3 linked regions of the Homo sapiens genome follow. The protein of the gene in region 1 purifies or fractionates together with the protein of each later gene. This does not show direct contact. Each region holds a gene or a part of one and is shown on either strand. Other genes may lie near its edges.

Region 1 (5,233 bases):
CGTTCATGAGCACAGGCACCAGAATGGGCTGAGTATTGGCATTTAAAAAGTTGAAGTTGGGGTTTGACAAAGTGAGTACAGTGATTCAAGGGAAGAGGCAAAGAAGTGATTATAATGATTGAACCAGATGCTTAAGCTCAGTAGTGAAAGGAATGAGGAAATGTCCAGTGTGGGAGACAGAAATAAAGATGGGAGGATCAATGGATCCTATTGTCAAAGGATGGATAAATTTGCAGTTGTAGGGGAAGTAAGCTGTGGAGGTAGAGGTGGTTGTCAGAAGCTAGGTTGAATGATACTGAAATTAGAGGGGTTGCAAGTATTGGTAATGGTCCATATTTGGACCTTTGTGTGAATGGCTAAGAAGGTTGGAGGACAGGACCATTGGAGGAAAAGAGCCTAAAGAACCAAGAAGCCAGAGTGCTGGAAGAATCATCTCCATGGGTGTTGAAATCACTAACATTTAAAAATGGCTTTAGAGTAGGGGACTTTGAGCCATTTTTTACTTCAAGAAGTGAAGGAACATGACCTACGGAGTCAGTAGATGACTGCATAATGGAGTCATATAGTCTGATGATATGAGATTCAAAGCTGGGTGTTTTTAGGGAGAGGAGAAAGAAGATACCCCAGAGGCCCCAATGAGGACCAAGGAAGACTCATGCAGTGTATGAGGAATGGGGGAGAATGGGGAGGGGAAGTGCTGTGTGAGAGGGTTATGAGGGAAGCTGTGTCTTCAGGTAGATGCAGATATTGATTAGAGCAAGTAGATGCAGGCAGCATTCAGAGAAGGGTTTGGGAACATGGGTTTTGCGGATCACAGGCCACATGACCTATAGGACAGGTTTCAAGAGCTAGGAAGAGTGAGGCATAGGGTCACAAAAAGGGGTATGCAGATCTCTATATGACTAGAATACAGGTGATGGAAGGGCAACCAGGAGTCTAGAGCTTTTTAGGGTGGCCCATTAAAATTAGGGATAAAGGGTACAAAGAGGTTAGTCCTGATGGTCCCCAGGTGGAATGAGGCTGTGAGTGACAAAGGCAAGGAGGGAAGAGAGAATCTTTTAAAATCCTCAGATATAATACAAGTGCTCAGAATTTAAAGCAGAAAATTATCTGAGGAGGCCTTCTCCTCCTACTCTGTTTCTAGATTTTAGAAATTGAGTTTACAAAGAGCTAAATGGTTCCCAGTTGTACAGCAACTTAGTGGATGGAGCAAACATGTAACTCAATACAAGAGGCCCCTTTCCCATTTTCTTCCTTCCCTTTCCATGTGTTTTTTCCTGCTCTTCTCTTTTCTTCATTTTTTCATGTCTTGGGTCGAATGGAAATTCATGAAAAGTATATATTTTCACCTGGAGGGTTGGGCTAATATTTACATAGCATGATCTTAAATTTTTAGAATTCTGACACCTAAAATGAGCAGTATTGTGTGTCCAATTAATAGACACATCTCATTCTCAAGGATAATGGAGTATATAGGCACAATTCAAAAATCCTCTTGGCTTTATATTTAACATGAATCAGCGCCAGAGTTTCAGTTATCAATATTAATATGTAACAAAATGTTCCTTTCTCATATGGGGTTAATCTCTCCCCTTCTCTGTCCTCAAACCACTTCTTTGAATTTACTGTGGCCGGCACTTACCTCATATTACAATTGAATGAGGCTGCCTGGCTGAGATATCTTCCACACCTGCTTCACAGGAGGGCCTCCCCTCAGTACAATGCCTGGAACCCATCAGTGTTTGCTGAATTTTTGCTCCCTCTAACATGGCAATCAAATGTTCAAAATGGAGAAGCAAGTGTCTGAAGAATCCAAATTTGAATAGTCATGGAGAATGGGCTCTAGGCCAGAGTCAAATGAGTTTGCTGCTTTCAGCATACCTGGGAAAAGGAGGGGCTCCGTGGGCAGTTTTTCCAGTGGCTTCATTAGGAACATGCTTCCAGGGAGCAGGATAAAGTCCCCCATAAAATAAGGTGTAAAGACAGATGGAATATCTTTCCTGAGGGTCCAGAAAGGCCTTTTATGATTTATGAGGCATGGACCAGTTTGGATGATTTCATTTTAGCACTTTTTTTTTATTTTTTTCTAATTTCAAAATCCTTTTAGAAGACCAAATGTTTGACCTTCCCTTCAAAAGGTTGATACCACTTCCATGAGTGTGGCCTGGATTTATATTGTCTCTGACCTGGGACATTTAACTTTAACTGGCACCACTAAACACCCTTGGGTTATGATTCCTGCCTTGCCTTCCTCTTCTCTGGACTCCAGCTTGGGATCAAGATGGTTGGCATTGTTAGGGTACCCCCTCTACAGATGACCTCCCACAGTCCCCCAGGAAGACATGGGATATTTTCACCAGCCTCATTCGCTCACCATTGGTACCTTCAGCAGAAAGAAATGAAGTCCTCTCCATTTTAACTTTGCTTCCAGCCTGGCCAAGAGAAAAGACTTTCAGACTTCCCTCTAAATCAGCTGCAGTGATAGAAAGCAGACTAGGTAACTTCAGCATGAGAGGGAGGGACCTCATTGCAGGAAGCAAAAGTCACAGTAGAGTTAAGACTCTTGAAAGAAGCACTTTTATTTTCTTGAAGAATTGACAGATCTCTGCTTCCTGTAATGTTTTGTGCAAATTTCTGACAGTGCTATTTTCCCTTCCCATAGGCAATGTGAAGTATTCATCCGGCCAACCAATGTTTCCTGACGTACAGTGTTGCCCTTTTCAGCAAATGCCAATTCCAAGTTCCATTAAATCAGAAGCTCCATGGCTCCTTGGCCCACGATGTTGAGTGCTGACTGTGTGTTCTACTGAAAGAGTAAAACACTGACTATCCAAAGAGAAATGGATATTTTGTTTTTATAATAACCATATATTATTGTTTTCTTCTTCCCTTTCTATGCAAGTGTAAATTAATGAACAGAGAGGTATTTGGAAATGGTAATACATTTGTCACGGATTTGTATAATGTATACAGCATTGGGAAAGTGGGTGGGGGCTTTCTAATATGATACCGTCTTTTTAATAACTATGACAAAGCTTACATAAGAATTAGAAGACCACTTTACATTTTTACATTCCTTCTGCTGTTCATATTAACCTTGCACAATTACTTCATTTTTTCTTTGACTCTTTTACCACAATGTTTTGGTTATTTATAATTTATCAGCCATATGTTTATCAGCCATATAACCAACTAGATCCCAAATAGATCCATGTATTTGTTTCCGTGATTTGGCCACATTAATAAATTCATAAATTTCAATCAAATATCTTATATATACACACATATGGTTTAAGCTACAGCCCTGTGTATGCCGTTTAACTTTATTTGACGTTGCCCACTTACTTCTTTGCTGACCACTTGGATAACCGTAATAAAAATCCTATAAGCCTAAATGGCATTTCTTTTGGGATATTTTTCCTGCATTTTATTCCCTTTTTATATAAGTAGGAATTAATTATTTATTTTATGTCTTAATCTATTTGATAAAGAAGACTACATTATAATAATCTCAAAGATCATATTACCAAAGGTTGCCCACTTGAGCATATTTTCATTTTGACACAGAAACAAAATTTAGTACAACCTTTCCTAGTTCCCATGTCTTGATTTTCATCATTACATGCACAGCAGACCTTTACCTATTGTGATACCAGAACACATCATTGTCTTTGGTTCCCTTCAAAGAGAATTTTATTGTTGTTTTGTATTTTCAAGTCCTTAATAGTTCTTGAAACTCCTAGTTGTTTTCTTGTTGAAAGCAGACACACATTTAGTGCACGGCTTATTTTACCTTTCGGGTGAAAGATCAGATGTTTTTATACCCTTCACTTGATCAATATATTTGGAAAGAATGTTTATCAAAAGTCTATGTCACTGCTTCTACAGAAGAATGAAATTAATGCTTAGGTGATGGTACCTCCACCTACATCTTTTTGAGTGCATTCAATTATGTATTTTGGTTTAGCTTCTGATTTAACATTTAATTGATTCAGTTTAAACATGTTACTTAATTAGCAAATGTAGAGGAACCAAAAAAAGGTGAAAATAATATGTTTTGATTCAAACCTAAAGACATAAAAACATAAAGACATTTTAACTTTGGGTTCTCTTTAGCTGGGATCTGGCCAGAAGGAGGCTTAAAGTTAGAAATTGCTATTATTTTAGAATAGGTTGGGTGGGTTGGGGGGCAAGGGTGTCTATTTGCAGCAGAGATATTTTGAAAAGAAGAAAATTGTTTTATATAAAAAGGAAAGCCATGACCACCTTTCTACCTCAGATCCATCTTCATCCATTGCATTGGAAACTGCTTTATGCTGCTGCAGTCTGCAAAGTCTAGAGCTTTTATCAGGCCATGTCATACCCAAGAAAGCACCTATTTAAAGAAAAAACAATTCCCTGAGCTCTCAACTCCAAGTTGTAGATTTGGTGTCTTCCTTGTTCTTACTTTAAAAAGTCATGTGTTAATTTTTTTTCTGCCTGTATTTGTATGCAAAATGTCCTCTATCTGCTATTAAAGAAAAGCTACGTAAAACACTACATTGTAACCTTCTAAGTAATAATAAATAAAAAGAAATATATTGCAGTAACAATGGGAAGTAAGTATGTAGTTCTTTTGAAATATGTGGTAAAGAACTAATCACAGACTATCATCTAATCTGGTTACATATTGTATTTTTCATCCTGAATAAAAGTAATTTTAACACAAGATGACTTTGATATTCTTCAGCTGGATTCACTGATAGAATGTGAGTTTTGAATGCACATTTATGAAAACAAGATATAGAGATAGCCTGTGTCCTGATACATCTACATTTTTTCCTGCAGTTTCTCTCATACACACTAATACAGTCTCCTGTTGCTCTCATTCTCTCTCTCTCCCCATCTCTTACACATACATATAATTATATGATTCTCAATTTATTTTCCAGATAGAAGGTTTATTGATAGAGAAAAGTAATATTGGATGTAAAAATGTGTACATAAAACCTGTTGAGTGTTTTAATAACTAGATGCTGTTGACATTAAGTTCCTTTCAAATGTACTTTTAGTTTCATGCTCTCAAATACTGTATGCTTTTTATCCGTACACTGGATTTTAACCACTCTAGTAGGTTTAATCAATTTCTGAAGCCATTCAGTGGGAAACAATGTTGAGAATCATGTTGCTTTATTCTAAAATTAAAAGCTGTCTATGAACTAGAAAAATCATCTAAAATATAATTTGTTAAAAT
Region 2 (6,956 bases), on another chromosome or scaffold:
TGGTGATTTCGTAGCCATCAGTGGTGGCCTCTTTGATAAACACCTATAACACCTATAAACCAATTTAGCCCTATTTACACAATGTCTTCTACCATACATTACTTGTTTGGGATTATTATCTCTTCTGTAAGCTCCTTGCAGGGAGAGACTTTATCTTAAACACTACTTCTATATCCCCTTCCCAACCCTTTACCTAAAAAATGAACATGCTGAGTGCATACTTATTAATTGACAGGTGTCATATAATAGATATTTTCCACAGCAATTAGGAGAAAATAAGGTGTGGGTAAAGTAAGCTAAATGGAGATATCATTATGTACAACACAATAAGGCACAAGACCATAAAAGTGACTTTGAAATAACATGTTCAGAAACAGCAAATCAGTTTATACAGCATAATCATTTTCAGAAGGTACTCACAACAAAATTTATCATACTATTATTGCTTAGCTTTAAAATCCTTTTTTGTGTGTTCTTACATGAGAAGCTGCATTTTGTGCTATTCCTTAATGCATATTTCTATAATTATATCTCATGTCTTTATGAAGTACCTTATTCATACAAGTATGAGAAAAGCTATACTATTCAAAATCTAAAAGAAAATAAAAACAATGTATTTTTCCACTCCTCCTGGGTTAACACATACAGTAATTTGCTAATAAAAACAAAGGTTATCATCTGTCATACTTTTCATTCACACTCTTGAATGACAGGCATTTTTTTAATGTTCCTGTTAGAAAAATTCTGTGCCAACTCGGCTTTAAAACCAACTCAAACCAAAATATCCATCTTTTTCTCTGAACTTGTTCAATCTCTCAATCAAAATTATGTATCAATTATATTTTCTAAAATAGTTATGATGCAAATGAAGTTCTAATTTATGATAGCAGCAGCCTTACACTATCTTTCCCATTTAAATGCACGGCGCTAGGGAAGACAAAAGCATACTCTGAAACATCTTCACAGGTCCTCTAACAATGGTCTCTTAGTAGAATTTCTTCTCTCTTTGTATAGTTATATTAAATTTCTGTGCTTCCCTCCTAAGATGAAATCATCTGTTTATACCCCTCCAACAACTCAGAAGTGAGCTTGTATCCTTTCTCTCATGCCTTTTGTCTAAGAACACCAAAGCGCTTCGTTATTTTATTTTACCAACCCCATGAAGTCAGTGGTATATCAAAAGCTGGACGGCTGATGAGATAACTAGACAGAGAGCTCTGGACAGCTGACCAAAACTTAGTACCCCTCTAGGTCCTTAAAATCAGTCGGAAAATCAGCCAAGCCCTATTTACAGGTCTTGAGTGTTTTAAACAAAAACAAAAACAAGAAAACCTTCCCACAAAGGAACTTGCACACACACACACAACTGTACTTTTCAGAAGGTGGAAATACAAGGGATCTTGTTCTTTTCGTTTTTCAAGAGTTTAAAAGCCCGGCACATCTGCATCTTGATAACAGCTCCAGAGGGCAATCTGATCAAAGACACAGAAAATCCCTCCTTTAAAGATGTGCACCTTGTGACACTCCAAGGAGGAGAGATATTTAAAGTAAAACCTGCCCTGCATCATTATCACTGACTTAAGGAAGAGATTAAAAAGCCCTTGGCTTCATGTGGCTTTTCAACATTTTGCTGTAACCCCAGGGCCATAGATGCTGTTCGTGAAATTCTTCTACTCATCCCTACTAAGAGTGTCACAGCAGTATAAACTCATACACAAACACGCACACATCTCCACTTCCATTCCCATCCTTCTCGCTTTGGTGCCCATGACCCAAAATGTGGACACAATGTTACAAAAAGCAAAGTCATGGGGCAATGCGGGGGGAGGAGGGGAGAGTGCAAAGGATTGAAAGATCCAGAAAAGCAAGAGTGTGAGAGGTAGCCGGCTCGTCTGCTATTGTAAAGCAAGCATTCATTCGGGTGGGGGCACAGAATGCAGAGGTAGAAATAAAGCAATCCTGACTGCCCACTCTGCCATCCCATTCTGCTTCTCTGCCCTCCATCACCCCATCCGCCCCTGGAGGACCACCTCCGAGCGAGAGGGCGCCACTTACGGTTCCCTACCCTCACCCTTGAGGGGAAACAAGCGAAATGGGGTTGGAATGAAGAATAGGGCTGAGCAGTGGGTGAGGGTCACGCCGGGCTCCAGGTGGAGACCCTGCCGCGGGTGGCCGCGCCGAGGCACGGGGGACGGCCCAAGCGCGGGTGAAGTGGGGATCAGAGGAGGGTCTCGCCCCCACTGCTCCCGAGGGAGGCTCCGGTTACTCACATTTTCCGTGTCCCGCTCGTTCACCGTCGGCAATGGCGTCCGGGCCGACATTTTGTGCGGGCAGCGGGGTCTGGCCGGGGTCTCGCCGGCCGGGCTGTGGTGCGGGCCCCGGGGGGCGACAGGAAAGGGGTGCGGACGCGAGCACAAGGCCGGGGCGAGCGGCTCCCGCAGGCCGCGGGGCGGTGCAACAAGCGGCCCCGGCGGGGGAAAGAGGGAAGAGGACGCGGAGGAAGAGGAGGGGGAGCCGCTTCCCGCGGCGGCGCCGCCGGGGTATGCGGACAGTAACGAGGGAGGGCTTCGGGCGAGGCGGTTGCCCGGCGCTGGCGGGGCGGCGAGGCTGGCAGGATGAGGCGTGGAAGGGGAGCCGGGAGGCGGTGGCGAGCCCCGCTAGGCTCTCCGGACCATGGGTGAAGGTGAAGCCGGTGCCTCAAATCACTGCCTGGCTCGTCCTGGCGAGCGCCTGGGCGTCAGGAACCGCGGCCCTGACAGCGTCACCCGCGCCGCGCCCCGTTCTCCGCCTCAGGTGTACGGCGCCGCCCGACCCAGCCGCATCCACGCGCCCGGGGCCCAGCGGCGGCGGCGCCCGATCCCCCGGCGCGAATGTCTCGGCTCGGTCCGCGCGGTCACAGCCACCGCCGCCGCCGCGCCTCAGTCAGGAGGAGCGGCCCGAGCCGGCTGCGCGCGGAGCAGCGGGCGCGGCACGCAGCGCCCAGAGGCACTTGGCGGCCGCCGCCGGGTGGGCGGGCGCCAGCCGAGGGGGCCTCTCCATTCATTCCCTCATTAGGGATGCGGGGCCGCCTCCTCCTCCTCCTCCTCCTCCTTTTTCTCCTCCTCCTCCTCCCGCGCTCTCTTGCCCGCCTGTCCCTGTGTTTATTTTTGTTTCGTGCCCCACCCGCAGAGTTTACGGTCGTCTAAGAGCCTCTGGTGGTTTTATTTTTATTCGTGTTTGGTTTTTGCCGGGTTGAGGGTGAGAGAGAGCTGATGTGAATCAGTGGCTTTTTTTTTTCTTTTTCTTTCTTTCTGTTTTTGTTTGTTTGTTTGTTTGTTTGTCCGTTTCATTGGAGAAGAATTGGATTCAATCCTACCCTGGATCCTACCCCTCCTTTTCTCCTACCTCGGGACTTTTACCATTCTTAAATTCTACTCCTCCTCCCCCGTTTCCACGCTTTCTCAATCCCTATCCTCGCCTGAGCCCTCTGTCAGTCTCCTTCTCTAGGGAGCCGTTAGGTTCAGGGTCACCCTCAGAGTTTGGCAAAAAGCACAGAAGCCCCTAGAAGCGCCAGCAGCCTAGGGAGGCGGCTGGAGACTCAGTACAAGTGGGTCTCAGCCCCCGACGGCGCGGCCTCTTCGGGAATGGGGCCGGCGGAAGACGTCTCGCTCTGGGCGCCCTGCAGCACCCTCGGAGTGGGTGAGACCCGCGAGTCACAACATCTACACTGGCTGATCGTCACTTCCTGGGACACAAGGAAGTGTCACTTAGGCGAGCCTGTTTAGGGAGGATGGAGAGCTGTGTCTGATTTGGGCCCTGTCCTCCCTCTTCCAGGTGGCTTCCTCACACTTCCACCCACCTGCCTCAAGACATCCTGTAGGCACCCGCGTCTGTAGTGCATTGTCCAGGACCCATTCGCCTTTTATAAGCAAGGCTGCATTTTTTTTTAATCTCATTTGAGAGCTTACATTTTGCACATTCAGCCTGTAGAACGAAAACCTTATCGTCTCTCTATTCTTCTTTGCAACATTTCTTTTTCACTTCCTTTCATGGATGGGCAGGAAGACAAAAGGAATGAAAGATAGGAGCGGATACATTGATTTTCTGAGCTGCTTCAGTATGCCTCCAGTGGAATTCTTATAATGGTGGGAAATTTCTCGTCTCTTCTGAATTTCCTCCATTTGAAAGAAGAATCCCTGAACCAGATGGTTTTTATCCTGACTCATTAAAGGTTGTTTCTGAAAAGTTAACACTTGACCCTTGAAGCATGGGTCCAAAAGACCTGAAAATAGCAAACACAAAAATCCTTTGAGGAAAGAAGCAATTCTCACCCAGTCTATATTCACTTCTAGAACACCATCTGTGTACTTATTTCTTTAGCATTTTCTCTTGTAACCACTTACCAATTTCACAAAGCAAATGAAAAAAAAAAAAAAAACAAGATCCCTTTGGTGGTCATCACCACTTCTCAAACAGAATTTAGGCAGCGGAACTGCAATGCTGCCTCCTGAACTATGATGTGTTACTGAGAATGTCAAGCATTTACGTGCCCTCTGCAGAAAATCCTGAATCACCAAGATACATTGAAGTTGCAAGGGCATAATCCTGTATTTTTCTGGTTATTTTCTGGTTAACTATTGCGACGGCTGCCTGTAGGGGCTGCCATCACAGTGTCAGCGGCATCACTGACTGCTGCAGCCACACAAGGGTACCTAGTGTTGCAATAGTACCTGAGTTAACCTAGCAATAAACAAGTAGCTGTGAAAAGGCGTTCAGCCCCATTGGAATATGAATCATTCCTTCAGCTGGTAGTATGTATTTTGCTCTTTAAAGTATACTCACATATTTTTCTATCTTTATAATCGTGGTGACCCTGACAGGCATATTTATTTCCATTTTACAAAATTCCACTAAGTTAACTTGTTCAAGATCACAGATGCACCAGGTTAATAAGATACAGAAGAAGATAACTGAAATATGTGGTGCTGTTCAATCTTGCACCAGTCACAAAAACCATAGGTTCACCCCATAAGATATAATGGCTAATTCGAGACAGAGCTTAAAGGAGAGCCCCAGATTCTGGCACAGTGGCTTCCACAGATTTTAAAGTGTCTGTTAAAAGCCATGGACAAATCCCTTAGCTATATTTGCTACACAATGCTCACTATTTCACATATTGAAATTTACGGAATATCACATAATAATAGGAAGGGATATTTATTGTTTAAGTCAATCCCCAAGAACACTTCTAACAGTGAAACTACATTCAAAGAGAGTCATTACTAGGTAGCTCGAATCCATAATTCTAGCTAGCCAAATTGTTTTTTTGGATAGAACAATTCTATCCAAAAGAAAATGCCATTCAAATAATCCTTATTAATACCTAACAATTTTAAGCTTGGTATGTAGTGAAAACTAAGTGAAAATGCACTTTGCCCAGGTTAAAAAAAAAGTCACTATGTTTTTCAAAAGGAAATACTGTCTGTCCCTATATGAGCTCTTCTCCCCTTAAAATGGCATTAGTAGATCCTTAAACATGGGAGAGGAAAAAAAAATGACATGAGGCATTATTGTGATGGAGTCAATACTGTTTAACCCTAGTCCTTAGAAATGAAAATGCTCATGAGCAAAATTTTTTTGTGTTACTATATATAGCTTCTGTGTCTGTGACTATGGAGAAATGACAAAGGGAATATTTTAAGGCTTTGAGTAATTTTTTTTTGGGTTATTAACCAAATGTGGCATGTTCAATTCACAGGTTCCTAACTTAATGTGTTAGGGTAATGAAAGTTTTGGAAGAAAATTGAAGTACTGACAAAACAAAAGGGAAATAAAGATCTAAAAGGTGCTAAACCTACAGTGAAAAGTGGGAAAAGAGCATTGCCTACCGTCAGCCCTATGGAGTAGAATTTTTTAGAACTACCGGGTCCAGTACCAGTTACATGTGACTACTGAGCTCTTGACATGTTGCTTGAATTTTTAATTTGACTCAATTTCAAATAATTTACACTTAAAAACCGATTTGATTCAGTGACTGAAAAAATTGTGTTATGTTTGAAAGTATGTTAAGTATATGAATCTACTTTTTCAACTGTAAATTTTCTGAAATCTATATACCGATTAAGTATTTCTCATGGAAATGTATTACCTGAATTGGGATGTGCTATAAATATAAAATGCACACCACATTTTCAAATAGTAGGAAAAAAAAGAGAGTAAGATGTCTCTTTATAAATATTATAACCATTTCATATTGAAATGCCAATATTTTAATATATTAGGTTAAATAAAATATATTATTAAATCATTTTCAACTGTTTCTTTTTTACTTTTTCAAATGCAGATCCTAAAAAATATAAACTTACATATGTGGTTTACATTACATTATCTCTCTGTTGGACAGTACTTCTCCATATGGTCAAAGCTGAGAATAAAAAGGCTTAGTTGCTTAAGAATCAAAGGCCTTGATTATAAGCTATTAATAATTCATTCTGTGGTAGAGTGGCACCCAATAAATGCTTGTTGGGCACCATTCTACCACATGCCATGCTGTGCTGTTCTAGGGGAATATTCTTCACCTAATAGTTAGCGGCAGTCAGTCTTACGCATTCTTTTTAAAGAGCAAAGTGGAAAACATGTTGAATTCATACAAATGAGCATTAACAGATTGCAGTCATTTGTAAACAAAGAATTTATCAAATGTGACAGATTCAGCAGATTAATAGTAAACTCTTAAAACTGCACATGTCTTTATATCATGTGCTTTAGATGTATCCAATGTCTGATAGACTTGGCCAGTCAATAATTATTTGCATACTTTGTTTTAGGTACTACAAGGCTATTTACAATCTTTCATTTAGCCACACAGGAAAACTACAGGATAGACAGTTCGGTAAGGTAACAAAGAGCAGTCTCAGCTAAAGAGAAACAAGGTTAATGTCCATCAGGAAAGAATAATCAGTCCTTGTCACAAATAA
Region 3 (7,033 bases), on another chromosome or scaffold:
AAGCTGATCAAAGACATTGAGGGTCTTACCCTTGCAGTGAGCCAATCAGGGCAGAACCAGAACCGATCCTGTTAATTCAGCAATGAGTTGGTTTGCCGAATCGCCCTTCCATGGTAAGCCATTAGGCATGAGGCCAATGATGGTTGTACACGCATGCACTCACACGTGCACTCTCACATGCCTCCTGACCAAAACTGGATAAACAGAGGAAAGCAAACAAACAAACCCAAAGCCAGACCGTCTCTTTGAAGGCTCCAGTTCCCATAATAAGCACATGGGTAGCATTCTCACAGCACAGGCTGGCTAATCAGTTGTGGTCAAAACGAGCATTTGTTATCCAAACAGAATTAAAACAGTCCGCCTGTGGTGCTCTCTCTAGTCAGTGACAAATAGGAGTTTTTCAGAGAAAAGGCAGTTCTCCTAATAAGCCAGAAAGGGTCTTGGAGTGCCCAGTTTTTCAATGTCATTCTAAAGCTGGAAGTAGGTTGGGCATAGTGACTCATGCCTGTAATCCCAGCACTTTGGGAGTCTGAGGTGGGAGGATCGCTTGAGGCCAGGAGTTCAAGACCAGTTTCAGTAACATAGCGAGACCCTGTCTCTACAAAAAAAATTTAAAAAATAAAATTTAGCTGAGCATGGTGGTGAGTGTCTGTAGTCCCAGCTACTTGGGAGGCTGAGTTGGGAGGATCGCTGGAGCCCAGGAGTTTGAGGCTGACCAAGCCATGACTGCACCTCCACACTCCAGCCTGAGACAGAGTGAGACCCTATCTCTTAAAAAAAAAAAAAAAAAAAAAGGGCCAGGCGTGGTGGCTCACGCCTATAATCCCAGCACTTTGGGAGACCGAGGTGGGTGGATCACCTGAGGTCAGGAGTTCCAGACCAGCCTGGCCAACATGGCGAAACCCCATCTCTACTAAAAATATAAAACATTAGCCAGGTGTGGTGGTGCGTGCCTGTAATTCCAGCAACTTGGGAGGCTGAGGCAGGAGAATCGCTTGAACCTGGGGGGCGGAGGTTGTAGTGAGCCAAGATCGTGCCATTGCACTCCAGCCTGGGTGACAGAGCAAGACTCTGTCTCAAATAAATAAATAAAGCTGGAAGTAGAAGGGGAGGATGAGATTGGTGGGTTCTGAGGGCTGGGATGGCCAAACACAGTTCTGCTGTGGTCAGGATTATGCAGAGATCAGGGGCAGAACAACCAGGAGTTATGGACCAGAGGACTGCAGGAATGTGGACGCTGAGGGCCAAAGCAAGAAAATGAGTGACTGACAGATTAACACTCAGGTGTAAGCAGGACAGAAGTCTATGCCGTGGTCCAGATTGAAGGGGCGGGGGGGGGGGGTCAGAAACCCAGGAAGCAAGATGTCTAGGGGCCTGGACTATTGTGTTATGGAGCCACCAGCGTCCTCTTACTGTGAGTTGACACACAACTGAATTTGGATCCTCTGTGTCCGAACTTGGGATAAGCGGGTTTACCTTTGCTCAAATCATCATTTTTTTAGGTTTTTCGTAGGCTCTGTGGCTTTCACCTCACATCTCAAAATGTACATCCCTTATTAAATATAATTGGCTATTATATATATATATAAAATATTTGAAAGGATTTTAATCATTTTACTTTTGGAATGATTTGGCTCTGAGTAACTCATCCAATTTGTAACTGGCTCTAATTTCTGGGCAATCATCTTGCACACGCACAAAAGGATTCTTGTGAGCTAAGAAAATCTAAGGTATCTTTTTTTTTTTTTTTTTTAAAGACAGAGTCTCGCTCTGTCACCAAGGCTGGAGTGCAATGGCGGGATCTCAGCTCACTGCAACCTCCATCTCCCGGGTTCAAGCGATTCTCCTGCCTCGGCCTCCCAAGTAGCTGGGATTACAGGCATGTGCCACCACACCCGGCTAATTTTGTATTTTTAGTAGAGACAGGGTTTCACCATGTTAGTCAGGCTGGTCTCGAACTCCTTACCTCAAGTGATCCACCGGCTGTGGCCTCCCAAAGTACTGGGATTACAGGCGTGAGCCACTGTGCCCGGCCTGGTACCAATTATTTTCAAATGAAAAACTTTTTAATGTTTCATTGAAAAATTAATGACGTTTACTTGACGTAACATCCTGTACGCATTTAAATACTTGTCAGGGAGGTTGATATAATGTTATGTAGGCATTCAATTAAATGTTTATTAACACCAGATACAGCATCTTCACTTTGTATGTAGGAGGCCAGGCAATTTTTTCAGGTTTCATACAGTTTTGCAGGCCCAGAGAAACTCATGGACCCTCAGCATTTTGCCCGTAGTTCCAGGTGGGACACTGCCTGTGTTGATGTGTGGAGTGAGGCTTTAAAGGAAATGAGGTATCAAAAGCTATAAATAATCCCTCCTGGGTTGAGCAGATTCTGTGTGGAAGAATGACTGTCTTACCTGCACTATCATATTTAACCCTCATGATAACCCTGTGAGAACACGATATTATGATCCCTTATTTGATAGAACAGGAAATGGAGGTCATTCAGTTGGAACACCTGTCATTTGAGACTCTCTGTCTCTGCCTGACCTTCTTTTGATCTTTTATAAGGTGCCACCTCAGTTCCCATTTATTTGGGGCAATATTAATTTTGGTTAAGGAATCTAGGCAGGTGTATAGCAAGAACTTAGAGCCAAGAGTAAGAACCTAGACAGACTGGTGAGTCAGTCATTGTTAGACCCTAACTGCTGTCAGCCAGGAAGATACTTTAATTTCAATTCAGGACTTTTTCTTTAGCACCTGGCTTCTGATACGCTGCCCGTTAAAGTAGCAGCCAGCCGGTTGCGGTGGCTCATGCCTATAATCCCAGCACTTTGTGAGGCTGAGGCAGGAGGATCACTTGAGGCCAGGAGGTTGAGACCAGCCTTGACAACATAGCGAGACCCCATCTCTAAAAAAAAAATGGAAAAATTAGCTGGGTGTGGTGGTACACACCTGTAGTCTAGCTACTCAGGAGGGTGAGGTGGAAGGATCACTTCAGTCTGAGAAGTCGAGGCTGCAGTGAGCTGTGATTGCGCCACTGCACTCCAGCCTGGGTGACAGAATGAGATGGGGTCTCATTCTGGGCTCAAGTGATCCTCCAGCTTCCTGTCTCAAAGAAAGAAAACCCAAAAAAACCCCACAAACAAATAAAATAAAGTGGGAACCACTCCTGGATCCCCTAGGTGGAGGACATGTCGAAGAATACCCTTGGCTGGAGGGGGATGGAGAGAATGGTATTCAGGGGAGGACTGTGACATCATGTGAATAGTCCCCGGCCTAGGACCCATGGGAAGGTGACTGTCTCTTTAGAGGCTCAGTGGTGGAGGCTCACTCCAGGGAGGCTCAGCCTCCATCAAGGATTGTCCCTAATCTTTGTGGGCATGTGGTGGAATATGAGTTGCTTTCTTTTTTCTTTTGTTTGAGCCTGAATGATGAGAGTTCACATATGCAGATACTCAGGAGTGTACATGCCAGGGGTAGGATTGCCAGAGCAAGATGAAATACAGCAACAGGAGGTATAGAAATACCTCCTCTGTTTCTTGCCCTTCCCTGAGATATATAGGAATGTTCTCCGATTCCATCAGCCCCTCTCTGGGCACCTGGAAGGTGCTTATTTTCATGGTTAGGCCATCAGGGCAGATGTAAAGGCAATTGTTCCATGTGTCTGAGGGCAGCGAGCAGCCTGCTGCTTCATCTCTCTGAGTGTTCTGATTGGAATCCATGCATTTGTAGCAATATTGCCTTCAGCTTGGAGAACGATTTAGGGAGAGGGTTGGCGGTTGAAAGAGGAGGGGAGGAGGGGAATCTTGCTAGTGTGAATGAGGCCAGGATAGGTTTTCGTCAGGACTTAGTGGCTTTTAAAAGTCTTTTTGAGCTGGGTGCAGTGGCTCATACTTGTAATCCTAACACTTTGGGAGGCTGAGGCGGGAGGATTGCTTGAGCCCAGGAGTTTGAGACCAGCCTGGGCAACATAGCAAGACCCTGTTTCTGCAAATATTTTTCTTTTTTAAAAAAAACTAGCCAGGCATAGGGGCATTTAAAAAAAATTAGCCAGGAGGTGGAGACTGGAGGATCACTTGAGCCCAGGAGTTGGAGGCTGCAGTGAGCTATGATTGCACCACTGTACTCCAGCCTGGGTGACAGAGTGAGACCCTATATCTAAATAAATAAATAAATAATAAACATAAGTCTTTTTGTAAAGATGAACAGACCTCAAGATAATGGTTATCTCTGACGGTGGGGATTCTGTCAGGGAGGGGCACACAGGGCTTCTAAGAAATAGGACTGATAATGCCTGTTTCTTAATCTGGATGATGAGTACAGGGTTTTCATTTAATTATTATTTTTTAAAAATGTAGACATATGTTTAATGTACTCTTTATATATGAGAAATTTCACAATAAGAAATCTTCAACATTGTAAGACACATATTCATGTTTCTTTTATTTCTTATTTGATTTAGGTGAGCATAGCTACCCCAAAACAGAAACCAAAAACTCCATTTTGCTTTGGTAAGTACTGAGCCAGGGGAGGGACTCATTTAATATTGACATGGCAACTTCCTCTTTTGCATGGAGACAGTCCTGTGATCACATGTGACTATACCCTGTGAGTATGAGTGACTTAAATCACAGTGACGGTCCTGGACGTCAAGTGATATTGTTTTCCCTGGTCTTGCTGCAAAGGTTGTTAATAACATAAGGACAGAGGTTCAGGGACTAGTAACATTTCTGTTTTCTTTCTTTTTTTTTTGGTTTTAGTTTTATTTTTTAAGTTGACAAATAATAATTATATATATTCATGGGGTACATAATGTATAGAGTAATTAGCATATCTATATTAGTCTGTTCTTGAACTGCTATAAAGAAATACCTGAGACTGGGTAATTTAAAAAGAGAACAGGTTTGCCCGGGCCTGGTGGCTCACACCTATAATCCCAGCACGTTGGGAGGCCGAGGCGGGCAGATCACCTGAGATCAGGAGTTTGAGACCAGCCTGGCCAACATAGTGAAACCCCATCTCTACTAAAAATACAAAAAAATTAGCTGGGCGTGGTGGTGAGTACCTGTAATTCCAGCTACTCGGGAGGCTAAGGCAGGAGAATCTCTTGAACCCAGGAGGCGGAGGTTGCAGTGAGCTGATTTCAGGCCATTGCACTCTACTCCACCTCAAAAAAAGAAAAAAAAAAGAGGTTTAATTGGCTCAGTGTTCTGCAGGCTCTATGGGGCCAGAGGAGAAGCAAGAAAGAGAGTGGGGAGGTGCTATGCATATTTAAATAACCAAATTTCACAAGAACTCACTATTATGACACAACAGCATGGGGGATGGTGTTAAACCATGAGAAACCGCCCCCACGACCCATCATGATCCAGTCACCTCCCACCAGGCCCCACCTCCAACATTGAGGATTACAATTGAACATGAGATTTGGGTAGGGACACAGATTTGGGTGGGGACAGAGATCCAAACCATATCAATGTCCATCATCTCGAACATTTTTTTCTTTTAATAATTGTCCATATGCATTTCAGTTTTCTTGATGCCACAAGGCAGGTGCAAAATGTCCACTATAAGTTTCTGTGAACCTTATTTTAGAGCTGAGAAATGTTGTGCTCAGAAAAGATGGAGGACTCAGAGGAGACGCAGATGGCAGTGCCAGGAAGGGGATAAGACAAAGGAAGGAGAATTCTGTTAAGGGTCTCAGTTGCCCAATAGTGACATGTTGGGGGATGGTGTAGGAGGCAGAGTCACCGTGCATGGGTGCCTCAAGTCAGGAAGTGGTCAGTGAATTCAGTGAATCCATCATCAAATAGTTACTTGGCTCCTACTATGTTCTCACAGCTGTGCTAAGTGCTATGAGCAAATGCTAACAAATAGTTTCTGTTGCCTATCTGGGGTGGTTCTGAATGTAAGTTTCACAAAGGCAGGGGTATTCCTCTGCCTTGTCACTGTGGTATCCTCAGCACTTAAAGATGTTTCCTAGCGCATAGTAGGTGCTCAGTAAATATTTGTCAAATGAATGAATGAACGGATGAATTCTGCATCTACCCCATGAGACTCACCTCCTACAGTTCAAGCTTATGCTAAGAGAATAAAGTATTCCCTTGAGCGATTCTGTCTCCCCACCTCAGATTTGTTCAGACTTCTTTGGCATGCTCATTCTTCTATTTCTTGCAAATTTCATAGCTAAGCTCAGAAATGACTCTCACGTTTTGTGGTTATCAGATCTGAAAATATATATATGTAATAATAGTGAATGTGGAAGTAAATTGTTGACCTAATGGAATGCTCAGAGGAAAGAACAGGTTGAGAGTGAGGCCAAGGTCACAGATTTGATCTCAGGAAAGCTTTGTTCTATTTCCCAACCACAGACAACTCTCCCAGTCCAGACCAGTTGTGCCAGAGGAGACCAAGCATGGGTCCAAAATTCTGTATATACCGTGATGACAGTAAATGTATTAGCACCGCCAGAATGCGGTTCACAGTTGTGTCTTGTTGACGGCAGACCAGCAGCCTCATCACCGCAGAACAGCACACTGAGGCTGCTGTTAACATGGTCAGGTGTTGTTCCTGTGGCCAATGGGATGTTTTTAAAGGTGGGAAAGAGAGTGAGCAGGTGTGGCCTGGGGCTTCCTAGATATCCAGGCAAATGACTTAGCATCATGGGAGATTTCTTGTTCTGCTTTGTGGAGTTCACTCATCTCACTCCCTCAAACACCTTAGCTTTGTGGAGACTTGTTGTATTGCTTGTATTCTGACCTAGGAATGTCTTCCCTTCTTTTCTGTGGCTTTTGTAGTTATCAATGCCCTGTCTCAGAGATATTTCCTTCAAGCCAATGATCAGAAAGATATGAAGGACTGGGTTGAAGCCCTGAACCAAGCCAGCAAGATCACCGTAAGTTTGGTTTCTTCTGTTTTCTGGTGGTAGTAAAAGTGCCTCTTCCCAGGCTATGGCCTTGTTGGGGTTGGGGAAAACTGAGATGGCAGCGGGGACTTTCCCAGGAGCCTGGTCTGTACCCAGTTCTCT

The links. Proteins that work in one complex are often made in the same cells at the same time.
Region 2: the proteins of UTRN (region 1) and MARK1 purify together in Homo sapiens (affinity purification with mass spectrometry; 2 studies listed by BioGRID and IntAct, with this or other methods). This does not show direct contact.
Region 3: the proteins of UTRN (region 1) and PLEKHA2 purify together in Homo sapiens (affinity purification with mass spectrometry; 2 studies listed by BioGRID and IntAct, with this or other methods). This does not show direct contact.

Annotation. Positions count from the first base shown.
Region 1 is NC_000006.12:144,848,327-144,853,559, forward strand, and holds the end of UTRN (utrophin), read left to right. Parts: intron 1-2,662; coding exon 2,663-2,671; 3' UTR 2,672-4,708; downstream 4,709-5,233.
Region 2 is NC_000001.11:220,524,188-220,531,143, reverse strand, and holds the start of MARK1 (serine/threonine-protein kinase MARK1), read right to left. Parts: upstream 3,009-6,956; 5' UTR 2,322-3,008; coding exon 2,271-2,321; intron 1-2,270. UniProt on the Homo sapiens protein: Serine/threonine-protein kinase. Involved in cell polarity and microtubule dynamics regulation. Phosphorylates DCX, MAP2 and MAP4. Phosphorylates the microtubule-associated protein MAPT/TAU.
Region 3 is NC_000008.11:38,939,321-38,946,353, forward strand, and holds part of PLEKHA2 (pleckstrin homology domain-containing family A member 2), read left to right. Parts: intron 1-4,468; coding exon 4,469-4,517; intron 4,518-6,803; coding exon 6,804-6,901; intron 6,902-7,033. UniProt on the Homo sapiens protein: Binds specifically to phosphatidylinositol 3,4-diphosphate (PtdIns3,4P2), but not to other phosphoinositides. May recruit other proteins to the plasma membrane.